2 linked regions of the Homo sapiens genome follow. The protein of the gene in region 1 interacts with the protein of each later gene in a biochemical or structural test. Each region holds a gene or a part of one and is shown on either strand. Other genes may lie near its edges.

Region 1 (7,171 bases):
TACAACAGATGACACAACCAAGGCAGGTCCAGGGGTGGGGCCCAGGGACAGATGCGGACACCAGCCTGGGTTCCACTCTGGATGCAGGAGCACAGGGCTGAGAGGCTGGAGAAGTGGAGGGCTACTGTCCCGAGGTGAGGGAGGTGATGGTGGGAGGAGGGGTGGGCTTGGGACAGCAGGGTCTGCTGGGCCTGCAACACTCAGGGTTCACAGGGCGCCTCTTCCTGCTCTGTAGGAGGCTGCTGGGGAGGCTCGGGCGGCTTGCAGGCCCACTGCGGTTTCTATACCTGGCCCTCTGCTCTGAGAAAGGGCGATGGTCCTGGCTGAGGCCATCTGGGAGGAAGTGGCCTTCAGCTTCCCGGGTGGTGACAAGGTATGAACCACAGGTCCAGTCTGCACTCACACACTCTACTGCCCGGAGAGCCATGGGACAGAGTCTGCTGTGGGCAGAGGATGGGGCACCTGCTGGCCGTTGTGGCACAGGCAGATGTTAGGAAAAGGCTGGACCCTGTCCTGCCCCATGCCAGGCCCTGCTTGGGCTGCATTCTCCGGCTGCCCTACGGTGCTGTCACCACGCTCTGCTCGCCATGGTCCACGCTCCAGAGGCGGTAAAACTCAGCAAAGTCCACATAGGGCTCAACACGACCGTCCTCGCCAGGCGGGAGCGAGTGGGCGGGCCGGGAGCGGAAGAGGCCTCCGTCAGAGCTGGAGCTGCTGCTCTGCGTGTGCGTGTTGGTGGACTGCAGGGTTAAGGTCGGGCTTTGGCTGCAGGACAACAGGGGAGGGAGTCAATCAGAAGCAGCCGGGTCAAGGGGCCTGGGGCAGAGTGGGGACAGAATGGCCCCTGCCTCTACCAGCCTCTTGGGCCACAGGCCTTTCTGGCAGAGGTGACCATAGGAGCTGGCCCAGCCAGATGATCTTAGGAACAGATAAAAAGTCAAATTTTAAAGCACCAGATGCATGTGGCTACTTAAATGAACTAAAGGTAAAGAAAATGGGGCTGGGCGCGGTGGCTCATGCCTGTAATCCCAGCACTTTGGGAGGCCAAGACGGGTGGATCACCTGAGGTCAGGAGTTCGAGATCAGCCTGGCCAACACGGTGAAACCCCATCTCTACTAAAAATACAAAAAAAATTTACCCAGGCATGGTGGCGTGTGCCTGTAATCCCAGCTGCTCGGGAGGTTGAGGCAGGAGAATTGGTTGAACCTGGGAGGCAGAGGTTGCAGTGGGCCAAGATTTTGCCATTGCACTCCAGCCTGGGCAACAAGAGTGAAACTCCGTCTCAAAAAAATGGAAAGAAAATGGAACACTCAGTTCAAGCGTCTAATAGCCACAAGTGGCTAGAGACGCCGTGACAGGACAGCACCCACGCGAGCACTCCCGTCATCACAGGAAGTTCCTCGGGTGAAGCTGAACCACCGACTGTCCATTACCATCTCTCTAAACCCGTCCCAACCCAGGACCTACTCAGCAGGGCGGGCAAGGTGTCTTCTTCTAGAAAACCTTCCTTCGCCCCCCTCCCCTTCAATCTCTTCTCATCAGCTGGGTGGGGACGGGCACCCACCTTCTATCACAGCTGGAACTGCCTGTTAGCGCTGCCCAGCACCAGCACAGGGCCAGCCCATGGTGGGACCAACTATGGCTCAGACGCTGAAAGGAGTGAGGAACACAGGCAGGGGAGGAGAGTGGGTTGTCCTGCCTTGTCTAGGGCCACAGCGCTCACACTCTGCTTTGTGGACACAGCTGGAGGACTCCTCCAGGCAGCCCGGCAGGGGTGCTGGAGAGGCCACCCCTACTGCACTCAGGATGCCCAAGGAGCTTGCTCGGCCTGGCAGGCCTTTCTAGCCCCGTGGCAGCAGTCGCAGCATCCACAACCCAGAGGCAGAGGGAAAGGAAGGCCCCCTGATGGGGCAGAGGCATGCAGGCCGCCCACCCCCCTCCAGGGCCTTTCTAATTGGCCACATCCTGCGCACTCCATCCTCAGAGTGGGCTGGGTGTGGCATCTCTATCATTCCATGCAGGGCTGGAATGTGGAAACCAGATCTGGGTCCCCTGGTGTGGGGAGTGCACATTCTAAGGAAGTGAAGGGGGTGGGGTGTACTCCAGACCTGTCAGGCAGGTCTGCGGCTGGAGGGGGCCTGGCCGCATCCCCCTCAGGCTGTTGCCTCTACCTCGCCCCCTGCCCCAAAACCAGAGAACTCACTTCAAAGCTAAAATCAAGCACATTAGCCAGAAAGCATGGGCTCTGACAAGCCAGTACAGGCCAGACAATGTCCTCAAGCAAGGACACCACAGGAAGCCACCCCACATCACACCGAGGTGAGGAATGAAAGGAAACCTTCCACTGAATGAAACCAGCAGATGGGCCCACAAGAAAATACGAGAAGTAGGCTGGGACCATCAGCCACCTGACCAAAAATCGCACCTGCCTCAGTTTCTAGGGAGACCTCCCTCACCAGGCACGGAGCTGGGGAATTCCAGACCCCAGGGCATCTCATCCACAAGCCTTGGCCCCATGGCCATTTCTGTCCTGGTGCCACAGGACACACACGGGGGTGACAGGGCTGGGGGTGGCTCAGTGGGGAAGGGACTTACTTGGTGAGGGTGGGGGTGGCTTCGTCCAGGGTGGAAGCACTGTGAGCCCCGTTGACCATCTGGCCCTGGGAGGGCATGACAAGGGAGAGGGTCACGCTGGTCTTGCTGGTGCTCTGGGCGCTGGAGTATGGCACAGACACAGGGTACACTCGTCCTCCTGCAGCTTTGGGAGGAAGAGAGTGGGGGCCTCAGGCAGCAGCTGAGGAGAAACCCAGGGTAGCAGGGGCATAGCTGCTCCATGGCCTGATGGGGTGGTGCCTGAGGGCTGAGTGTGGGTGGCGGCCATGCCTGGCTCCCCAAGCCCAGTGGGGCCCCCTGCCCCTTGGGACAGCTCAGGAGGAGTGTCCCTTGTCAGAGACTCTTCCAGGCCGGGCTGAGAACTCCTTATAGCAGTAAATCCTGCTGGTGCTCGAGTTGCCTCAAGGAAAGGGTTACTGCCTGGCTTCCCATGGATGCTTTAATTCAGAGGATAAGTTTGCTCCCAGTTGAGGCTGACCCAATAAAAATATGGTTGCAATAAAAACAGGCCAGAGAAACTCCAATAACCCTGGTGTCCATGGGAGAACAAATCTGTCTGTGGATGCCTGAGCTTTATCTAAGATTTGCTTGTTTAAAGCAAAGAAAAAGAAATGCAGCCCTCAGGAACCGAAGGTCTTAGTGCTGAGCAGCACTGGGGGGAGCACGGGAAAGAGCAGCCACCTCTTTTCCTGAGAACTTGGTTGAAGAATGACATAGGTAAAAAGCAAAACGTCCTTCTCCCTGCCCTGCTCCAGTGCAGCCCAGGGACAGACAGGCCTTGGGGCCTGACCATCTGTCCACATGCCTAATCTCTTCCAGGTCCCTTCATTCTTCAGCCTCAGTTTCCCTCTCTGGAAAACAGGGGTACCACCTGTCTTTAGGGTTGCCCATGAGGACTGAAGGGAATAAGGCAGGCTGTGTGCCTGGCACAAGGGAGGCACTCAATCAGTGGTGGCCATCATCTCTATTATGTGGCTTCAGGGCTCTGTGAATTGCTTGCTGGGGCACTCAGGTTCTGGGAGGTTGCCGGGGCAGGTGGTATTAACCTCATTTTACAGACAAAAGAGCAAAAATCAACACTCAGCTCAGAGAGGCTAAAAATCAGAGAACCTGAATTAGAGCCACTCAGAGCCAGGCCTCCTGACTCCATCTCCGTTTCAAGCAGCCTCGGGGGCTCTGCACCCACCTCTGGCCCCCAGATGGCATCCCCAGGCACTGCCTGTCTGCACAGCACACGTACCTGGGGCTGGGCTCGGTGTGGGCTGGCTCATTTCGCCCAGCGGGTAGCCAAAGTTCCTCACTAGCAGGGTCATGTCCTCGTGCCGGGGGCAGAACCTGGCACGCTCCCCACCACTGGCGAAGGTGTCGCTGTGGATGCGCTTCACCCGGTCCACGACGGCCTGGGCCACTGCGTCCAGGGAGGTCTGCTTGGCAAACTCAGTGTCAATCATCGCAGCAATCTCCTGGGGGAGGGGGTAGGAAGAACCTGGTAAGGAACGAGGTGCGGCCTGGGGGGCATGGGCCATAATCTTGGAGCCTAAAATCAGGAGATTCAGTGGTCAACAGCCCAGCAGGTGAAGGAAATGCCTGCCAGCCAAGTTTGCAATCTGAGCCTTTCAAGGTATTCAGGATAATCCTTCTGGAACTTTCTCATTAGGAAGTGTGTGCTCTTGTGATTGCTCTAATTGTTGGGTGCACACCTCTAGGATGGGGAGAACATCCATTTGACTGGGTGAATACGAGTATTAACTAACAGTGGTGTGAGAGCACTCTGCCAGCCACTAAAAAGCCTAGTAGCAAGTGTCATTATTATGAAACACTCTTTCCTGGAACAAACTTGTTGTAGGCGATGTTATACATGCTAGGATTTTGTCAGGAACTGGGGATACAGAATGAAAACAGGGTCCCTGACCTCAGAGAAGTCCCTGTCTAGTATACAGATGTTCCTCAATTTAGGATGGGACTATGTCCTGACAAACCCACTGTAAGTTGAAAATATCATAAGTTGACCGGGCACAGTGGCTTGCGCCTGTAATCCCAGCACTTTGGGAGGCTGAGGTGGGAGGACTGCCAGAGGTCAGGAGATCGAGACCAGCTTGGCCAACATGTTGAAACCCCGTCTCTACTTAAAAATACAAAAATTAGCTGGGCATGGTGGCACATGCCTGTAATCCCAGCAACTTGAGAGGCTGAGGCAGGAGAATTGCTTGAGCCCAGGAGACGGAGGTTGCAGGGAGCCGAGACCAGCCTGGCCAACAGGGCAAGACTCTGTCTCAAAAAAAAAAAAAAAAAGAAAATATCGTAAGTTGAAAAAGCATTTGGCCGGGCGTGGTGGCTCACACCTGTAATCTCAGCACTTTGGGATTCTGAGGCAGGCCGATCATGAGGTCAGGAGATCGAGACCATCCTGGCTAATACGGTGAAACCCCATCTCTACTAAAAATACAAAAAATTAGCCGGGCGTGGTGGCGGGTGCCTGTAGTCCCAGCTACTCGGGAGGCTGAGGCAGAATGGCGTGAACCCGGGAGGTGATCAGTAAGCCCAGATCGAGCCACTGCACTCCAGCCTGGGTGACAGAGCGAGACTCCATCTCAAAAAAAAAAAAAGAAAAGAAAAAGCATTTAATGCACCTAATCTACTGAACATCATCACTTAGCCTAGCCTACCTTAAATGTGCTCAGAACACTTCTATTAGCCTACGGCTGGGCAAAATCATCTAGCACAAAGCCTATTTTCATTATTATATAAGAAAATGTTGAATCCCATGTAATTTTTTTTTTTTTGAGACAGAGTCTCACTGTGTTGACCAGGCTGGAGTGCAGTGCTGTGATCTCAGCTCACTGCAAGTTCCATCTCCCAGGTTCAAGAATTCTCCCGCCTCAGCCTCCCGAGTAGCTAGGATTACAGGCGTGCGTCACTATGCACCAGATAATTTTTTTTTTTTTTTGTATTTTTAGTAGAGATGGGGTTTCACCGTATTAGCCAGGATGGTCTCGATCTCCTGACCTAAAGTGATCTTCCCGCCTCAGCCTCCCAAAGTGCTGGGATTACAGGCGTGAGCCACCACGCCCAGCCGAATCTCATGTAATTTATTGAGTACTGTTTTGACAGTGAAAAACAGAATGGTTGTAGGGGTATGGGAGCACAGTTCCCACTGAATATGTATCACTTTCTCACCATCATAAAGTTTCTTTTGGGCGGGGCAGGAGGGCAGGGACAGGTAATAGGAAATGACCTGCACCTGGTCCTGGTGGGCTCAGTTTCAACACTAAGCAGCAACGTCACTTCTGGCAAGAACCTGAACTCCGTGGACCCCAAATTCCCTACTCTACCTGGAAATAAGCCCCTGTCCCTCTATGTTATAAGGCTACTGGAAGGAATGGTAAGCTTATATAACAGGTAAAGAAATCAGAACACAGGCTGGGCGCAGTGGCTCATGTCTATAATCCCAGAACTTTGGGAGGCCAAGGCAGGTGGATCATCTGAGGTTACGAGTTCAAGATAAGCCTGGCCAAAAAGGCAAAACCCCATCTCTACTAAAAATACAAAAATTAGCCGGGTGTGGTGGTGGCACATGCCTGTAGTCCCAGCTACTCAGGAGGCTGAGGCAGAAGAATGACTTGAACCCGGGAGGTGGAGGTTACAGTGAGCCGAGATTGCACCACTGCACTCCAGCTTGGCCAACAGAGCAAGACTCCATCTCAAAAAAAAAAAAAAAAAAAAAAAAGAAATCAGAACACAGGGAACAGGGGATAGTTAGGCACTTGAGACTTTTTCGAAGTAGATCTGCATTCAATCCAGCAGTCTGGGCATCTACCTAAAGGAAAATAAGTCATTATATGAAAAAGATACTTGCACACGTATGTTTATAGCAGCACAATTCACAATTGCAAAGATGTGGAACCAGCCTAAGTGGCCATTGACTAATGAGCAGATAAAGAAAATGTATCTATAAACTATGGAATACTACTCAGCCAGTAAAAGGAAAGAATGAATGTCTTTTGCAGCAACTTGGATGGAGATGAAGGCCATTATTCTAAGTAACACAGGAGTGGAAAACCACAAACTATGTTCTCACTCGTAAGTGGGAGCTAAATGATGGGAATGCACAGGCATACAGAGTGATATAATGGAACTTTAGAGACTCAAGGCGGGAGGATGGCAGTGGTGCTAGGGATAAAACACTATACATTAGTTACAATGTACACTATAAAACACTATACATTAGTTACAACGTACACTATAAAACACTATACATTAGTTACAATGTACACTATAAAACACTATACATTAGTTACAATGTACACTATAAAACACTATACATTAGTTACAATGTACACTATAAAACACTATACATTAGTTACAATGTACACTATAAAACACTATACATTACTTACAATGTACACTACTGGAATAACTGGTTTACTAAGATCTCAGAATTCACCACTACATAATTCATCCCTATAACAAAAAAATACTGGTACCTCAAAAGCTACTGAAATAAAAATTAATTTTCAAATTTTAAAGAAGACTTTTTCCTCATGATATTGATTGATT
Region 2 (5,623 bases), on another chromosome or scaffold:
AAATACAAAAAAATTAGCCGGGCGTGATGGCGGGCGCCTGTAGTTCCAGCTACTCGGGAGGCTGAGGCAGGAGAATGGCGTGAACCCGGGAGGCAGAGCTTGCAGTGAGCCGAGATGGCGCCACTGCACTCCAAACTGGGAGACAGAGTGAGACTCCATCTCAAAAAAAAAAAAAAAAAAAAAAAAAAAAAAAAAAAAAAAAAAAAAAATCAGAAAGGACAAGAAAAACAGTTGACTGTGTTAGGATGCAAGGCTGAATCTCTGCACATTCTATTTCCTCTGAGGCAGTGCTTATTTTCCAAGGAAGAATTTTTGGGTGTGCTATACTGGAGGTCTCCCTTCTCAGGGAGAGTCATCACTTGCTCCAAAACGCTGGACCTCAGCTCAAGGGCACCACTGCAGGAGGAATAAAAAGGTGGAGCCACGCAACAACTCGTCTGTGTTCCGCAGTAGGCTCTTTTTGAGGGACTTCCAGAAATGACAGCATGTGTGCAGAGAACAGAAAGCAAAGTTACACTGTTACAGAAGGCACAGAAGGAAAACCTTCGGCTACTGCTATCAGTGGAATTTCTCTGTAGCCAGACTGAGGTCTGGTGGCATTTGAGATATAATATAGATATAGACCTACAAATACAGATCTCCAGGCTGTTCATTCAACAAGTCTTTATTGAGCACCTACTCTGTGCCCAGCACTGCACTAGGTGCCATGAGAATACAAGAGTAGTATAAGATGTTATCCGCCCTCCAGGAGCTTACAAAACTAGAGGCAGAAATAAGATGTACATGTGACTCAGGCAGCATGTGACACACACAAAGTGGGCAGCTCTGAGACAATGGTGGTCAAGTGACCACTGAGGCCCAGAGCCGTTGGAACAGTCTCTTAGAACAGGGTGGAGGACTTAAAACTTGGATGAACAGGGGCTGGCAGAGCACTTGGAATGGGTAAGGACAAGACTGGGAGATCAATTTGGCTGGAGCAGGGGAGCTTGTGTTAAACTGTGATGATGAGGGGCACCTGGACAGAGGTTGGGTCCGTGGGCAATGAGAAGACATGTTACTCCCTCTCTTGACATGAAGACCTGGTGGGCTTGTGGCCTCCTGCTGCCTTCCTTTCCCTGTCTTCCCATCTCCACTCTCTCCTAGGAAAGTGGAACCTGGATGCTGGTAGGGCCAGAGACAGAGGCTTAACACCCTGCTGGGGAACCCGGTCAGAACTCCCGAGGCAGGAGAGGTTCTGCTCCACTGGATGTTTGTCTTGGTGTTTTTGGATGTGCTGATCAAGAGCAAGATGTTCTGGATTCTTAAAACTCCCCTCACAAGGACCAATCTAGAGATAATTTATTGATCAGTGATCACAGCTTGTACCCCAAAGCCGTGTATGTCTGGATCCTTCCCTAAGACCACAGATAGCTCCAGGGAGTCCCACCTCCTTGGCTATGGAAATATGCTCAGCCCTGGTTTCAGAGAAGCCTGGACTCCACTCTGGACCCCATGAGATGATATGCGCTGGTACTCCAGGCTTTAAATGGCCTGGGAAGCCTCAGTGGATTTTGTTTATTTTCAGCATTGCCATGTATGCTTAACTCTGAGTTGGGGTGGGGTAGGTCTGTTTAAAATGCCAGGGAAGGTGGGCAGCAGAGTGGATTTGTGCAAGAAGGAACCTGGGGGGTTTAAGGACAGCAAAATGATCTTAGGCGTAATTGACTGGTTTTTCTGAGGTCTTGCCACACTGGGCAAGAAAATGCTGCATCGGGCCCTTATTCCAGAGAGTGCAGAGCTGGGGCCAAGGTCGTGGTCAAAAAGGAAAGGAGCCCTCATGGACTCCAGGGTCAGAAGTTCCCTCGGGAAACCAGCAGGAGGTGGGAAAAGAGCCCCATTAGGGCAGTAGATGGAGCAACAGCACTGAGTGAGATTTCAGGGGGCCACAGCAATGGGGAGGTGGCTACCAGTGGATATGGGGTCCCCTGCTCCAGGTGCTTAGGCCAGGCATCCCGTCCCCCCATTGAGAGTCCTGGAATTCCAAAGAAGTGAAGCATCTGAGGGTTGGGGCTGGGGGCAGATGTCAGGGCTCAGGGTCTTAGCAGGAGGCGTGTTCCTGGCCACTTGAGCCACAGGAAGGGGACCAGGCGCCGGGTGAAGGTGGCAGTGAAGGTGTAGATGAGTTCCTGTGACTCTGCGTTGGTGAAAGTCACGGTGCCCCCTTCATAATCCAGGGCGATGCCCACTCTCCGGGGCCGCAGTGCTGGGAAAAGCTCAGCCTCGGGGCTGGTGTTGGCCCAGATGCCGGAGGAGGAGAGGCGCAGCGCCCACACGCCATCCTCTGGCCGCAGGGAGAGGTCTCCCTTCCTCTTCACAGAGTCTCTAGCCACCCCCACCATGCAGCTTTCCAGAACTTCCTCCTCTTCCTCCTCCTCTTCTTCCTCTTCATCGCCCAACGATTCCTCATCTTCGTCCGTTTCCCAGTCGTCATATCCATCCCCATAGCCGGCCTCCTCTTCCTCCTCCTCCTCTTCTCCCTCTTCCTCCTCATCCCCCTCTTCTTCATCCTCAGACCAGCCCTCCCTCTCCACTTCCACTTCCCAGTAGACCTTGCCCCAGGTGAAGCCCTTGCTGCCTAGCACCCCAGGCTCACAGTCAAACTGCTGGGGGTGCAGGTAGGCACTCTTGTACAGGCTGGTGTAGGTCACGCACTTCCAGTCCTCTGACAGCTGCAGGTACCCACTGGCCGACTGTGGGTCCAGGGTGACGCTCACTGTGGGGACAAGGGAAAAAAAAAAAAACAGCATCACTGTTTTGTTTTGTTTTTTAAGTCAGAGGGAATAAAATTTATTTTGGCAGATAGCGTTAAACAAAATTAAAGTTGCATACATTAGTAATATAACTCAACATCCTTAATTTGGTATAAGTGTGACACATTTTCTGGCTTTGTATTCTGCTAAATCACCATAACTAAACTGCTTTATAAACATGATATACTGAAATTTAACTTGACTGTTTTCGCTTACGCTCTGATTCCAAACAAAACTTTTCATAAGCTTCCTCTATCTCTGGATCTCTGGGTCCAACTCATCATTAATATCATCCAAGTGTGGATCACCAGTCCCTGAAAAATCTGTTCCATTTTCTTCATAATCCAGAAAAAAAGTCCTCTTTTTCAAGTAACTCTTGATATGCTTCTTGGTAATCCGGATCAGCTGCAGTGAAAGGAACACTATGAAACACAATAACTATGTGAATGACCACTATAAAATGTTGGTTCATTCACATAGTAATTGGGATCTTTTTTGGCTGTTGTATTTCTGTATGATGAAGTTGCATGGACTCTACCCCAATTACTGCACTGGGGTTCTACAAGCTTCAAGAGCATCTGTTTCATGTCTCTGCCACAGCTTGCATCTATAACAACATTTTCAATTTCCTGAATAATTTCTTCCATATCAGTCCTTCCTTTTCCTTCCAAGAATCTTCCAAAACTGACCCTGTCAACTTCAGCAATTTTATTGCACAAATTAAGCTGTCATCCACGGGATTAGAAAAGAGGGCATTCAGGCATTCGGCAACTCCTGAAGACCAACCTGAAGAATATCTGCCCTTGTAACCTGTCCATTTGTTCCTCTGATCTCCAGGTTATGATAAAGCTCTCCCAGAAAGGGTACAAATGCATGAAATTGTTTTGGAGTAACTTCATCCCCTTTTGCAGCTTGATCTTTAATGTCATATTCAGTCCGACATCTTTGAAGTAGAAATTGGCGGAAGGTGCTACTCTCTGTGCTAACTGTCAGATGATGTCAGGTAATTACACAGGTGAGCTCCCATGTAAGAGAAATTTGGGGCTGGGCACGGTGGCTCACGCCTATAATCCCAGCACTTTGGAAGGCCGAGGCGGGTGGATCACAAGGTCAGGAGATCGAGACCATCCTGGCTAACATGGTGAAACCCCATCTCTACTAAAAATACAAAAATTAGCCGGGCATGGTGGTGGGCACCTGTAGTCCCAGCTACTTAGGAGGCTGAGGCAGGAGAATGGCGTGAACCTGGGAGGCGGGGCTCGCAGTGAGCTGAGATCACACCACTACACTCCAGCCTGGAAGACAAAGCAAGACTCCATCTCAAAAAAAAAAAAAAAAAAAAGGCCGGGCGCGGTGGCTCACGCCTGTAATCCCAGCACTTTGGGAGGCCGAGGCGGGTGGATCACGAGGTCAGGAGATCGAGACCATCCTGGCTAACACGGTGAAACCCCGTCTCTACTAAAAATACAAAAAATTAGCCGGGCGAGGTGGCGGGCGCCTGTAGTCCTAGCTACTCGGGAGGCTGAGGCAGGAGAATGGCGTGAACCCCAGGAGGCGGAGCCTGCAGTGAGCCGAGATTGCGCCACTGCACTCCAGCCTGGGCGACAGCGAGACTCCGTCTCAAAAAAAAAAAAAAAAAAAAAAAAAGAAATTTGGGACAGATGTGGCCTCTGAGTTCCACAAGTTCTTGCAAAGCATCATCTGTTGTAACACAAGCATTCAGGGTCTCTGTAAACTGTTCAATTTCAGTTTCAAAACTACCAGCCTGCTCTGTAAGATGGTTCAAGAAACCCTGAACAGGTACTGACAGAGTGGGATAATCCTCACCATCATCCTCATAGGATTCTCTATAATTAGAATAACCTGATAGGTAAAATTTGACGGTATTCACAGACAGCTCAGACATTAATAAAGAAGCTACAACCACCTAAGGTTTAACCACTGCTAACTCAGTTCTGCTATGGGATTTTATCCTGTGAACTAGATGAAGCTCTCAGGGCCTCGTTTGCTCCCAGACAGGCCGACCTCCTCAATGGTTCTCACGAAAGCAAGTGTGAAAGTGAGCCAGGAGGAGACCACCAGTCTTCACAATCCAAGGGGCACCATTCACATCTTGGTCTATGTGGATGGCGCTCCTTGGTGGTTGGTATGCAGTGTACAACCTAACTGCAGGGCTGAGAGGGGGCACAATAGTGGGGCCTGTGGTGGATATGGCCTCTGGTCTTAGGTTGCCCCTGCTGTTTGCTCTGAATATAGGAGCCATGCAGCCAGGAAGATGAGAGAAAGCTCGGCCACAGGAAAAGGACTGGTGGTAGGACCTGTGAGGATAGGAAAAAGAAAAGCAAACACAGGGCAGAGAAGGATCAGACTAGCAAGCAGAGGCCTCTACTGCAGACTAAAGAGTAGGCTGATTAGAAAGTGCAAAGAGGGAGGGGGGCTTCTATTGTGCAGCTGGGAAATTCTTCCTGTTGCAAAAGGGGCTACCTGGGGGAAAAGTGAGCAGTCAGAATCTCTGCAGGCGGAGTTTTCTATATTTGATGTACATCTGGGAAACACCCTCTAGACACTCACCTGTCTTATATTCCAAGTCTCTCAGCAGCTTCCCTGGGGAGAAAAAAGGACAGCAATGACTCAAGTCCCGAAAATTTATGAGCCCATTTCTTGCTCGGGCAGTATCAATTTCCTGATAGGGATCCATGTCTAAGACAAGAGGCCCTCAGAAGAGTGAGGATCGACAAGGTGATGGAAAGGAGCTGGGTGCGCTCTTTCTACGAGGTAGCCCTGCTCTGACTCCCACCCTTTGTGCGCTCCCCAACCCTTACCCTGGAATTCCC

Evidence for each region.
Region 2: the proteins of TAB1 (region 1) and TRIM26 form a complex in vitro, tested with the Homo sapiens proteins (one study listed by BioGRID).

Annotation. Positions count from the first base shown.
Region 1 is NC_000022.11:39,423,609-39,430,779, reverse strand, and holds part of TAB1 (TGF-beta-activated kinase 1 and MAP3K7-binding protein 1), read right to left. Parts: intron 4,078-7,171; coding exon 3,855-4,077; intron 2,760-3,854; coding exon 2,597-2,759; intron 766-2,596; coding exon 558-765; 3' UTR 1-557. UniProt on the Homo sapiens protein: Key adapter protein that plays an essential role in JNK and NF-kappa-B activation and proinflammatory cytokines production in response to stimulation with TLRs and cytokines.
Region 2 is NC_000006.12:30,183,807-30,189,429, forward strand, and holds the end of TRIM26 (tripartite motif-containing protein 26), read right to left. Parts: coding exon 5,612-5,623; intron 5,394-5,611; coding exon 5,361-5,393; intron 2,753-5,360; coding exon 2,070-2,752; 3' UTR 649-2,069; downstream 1-648.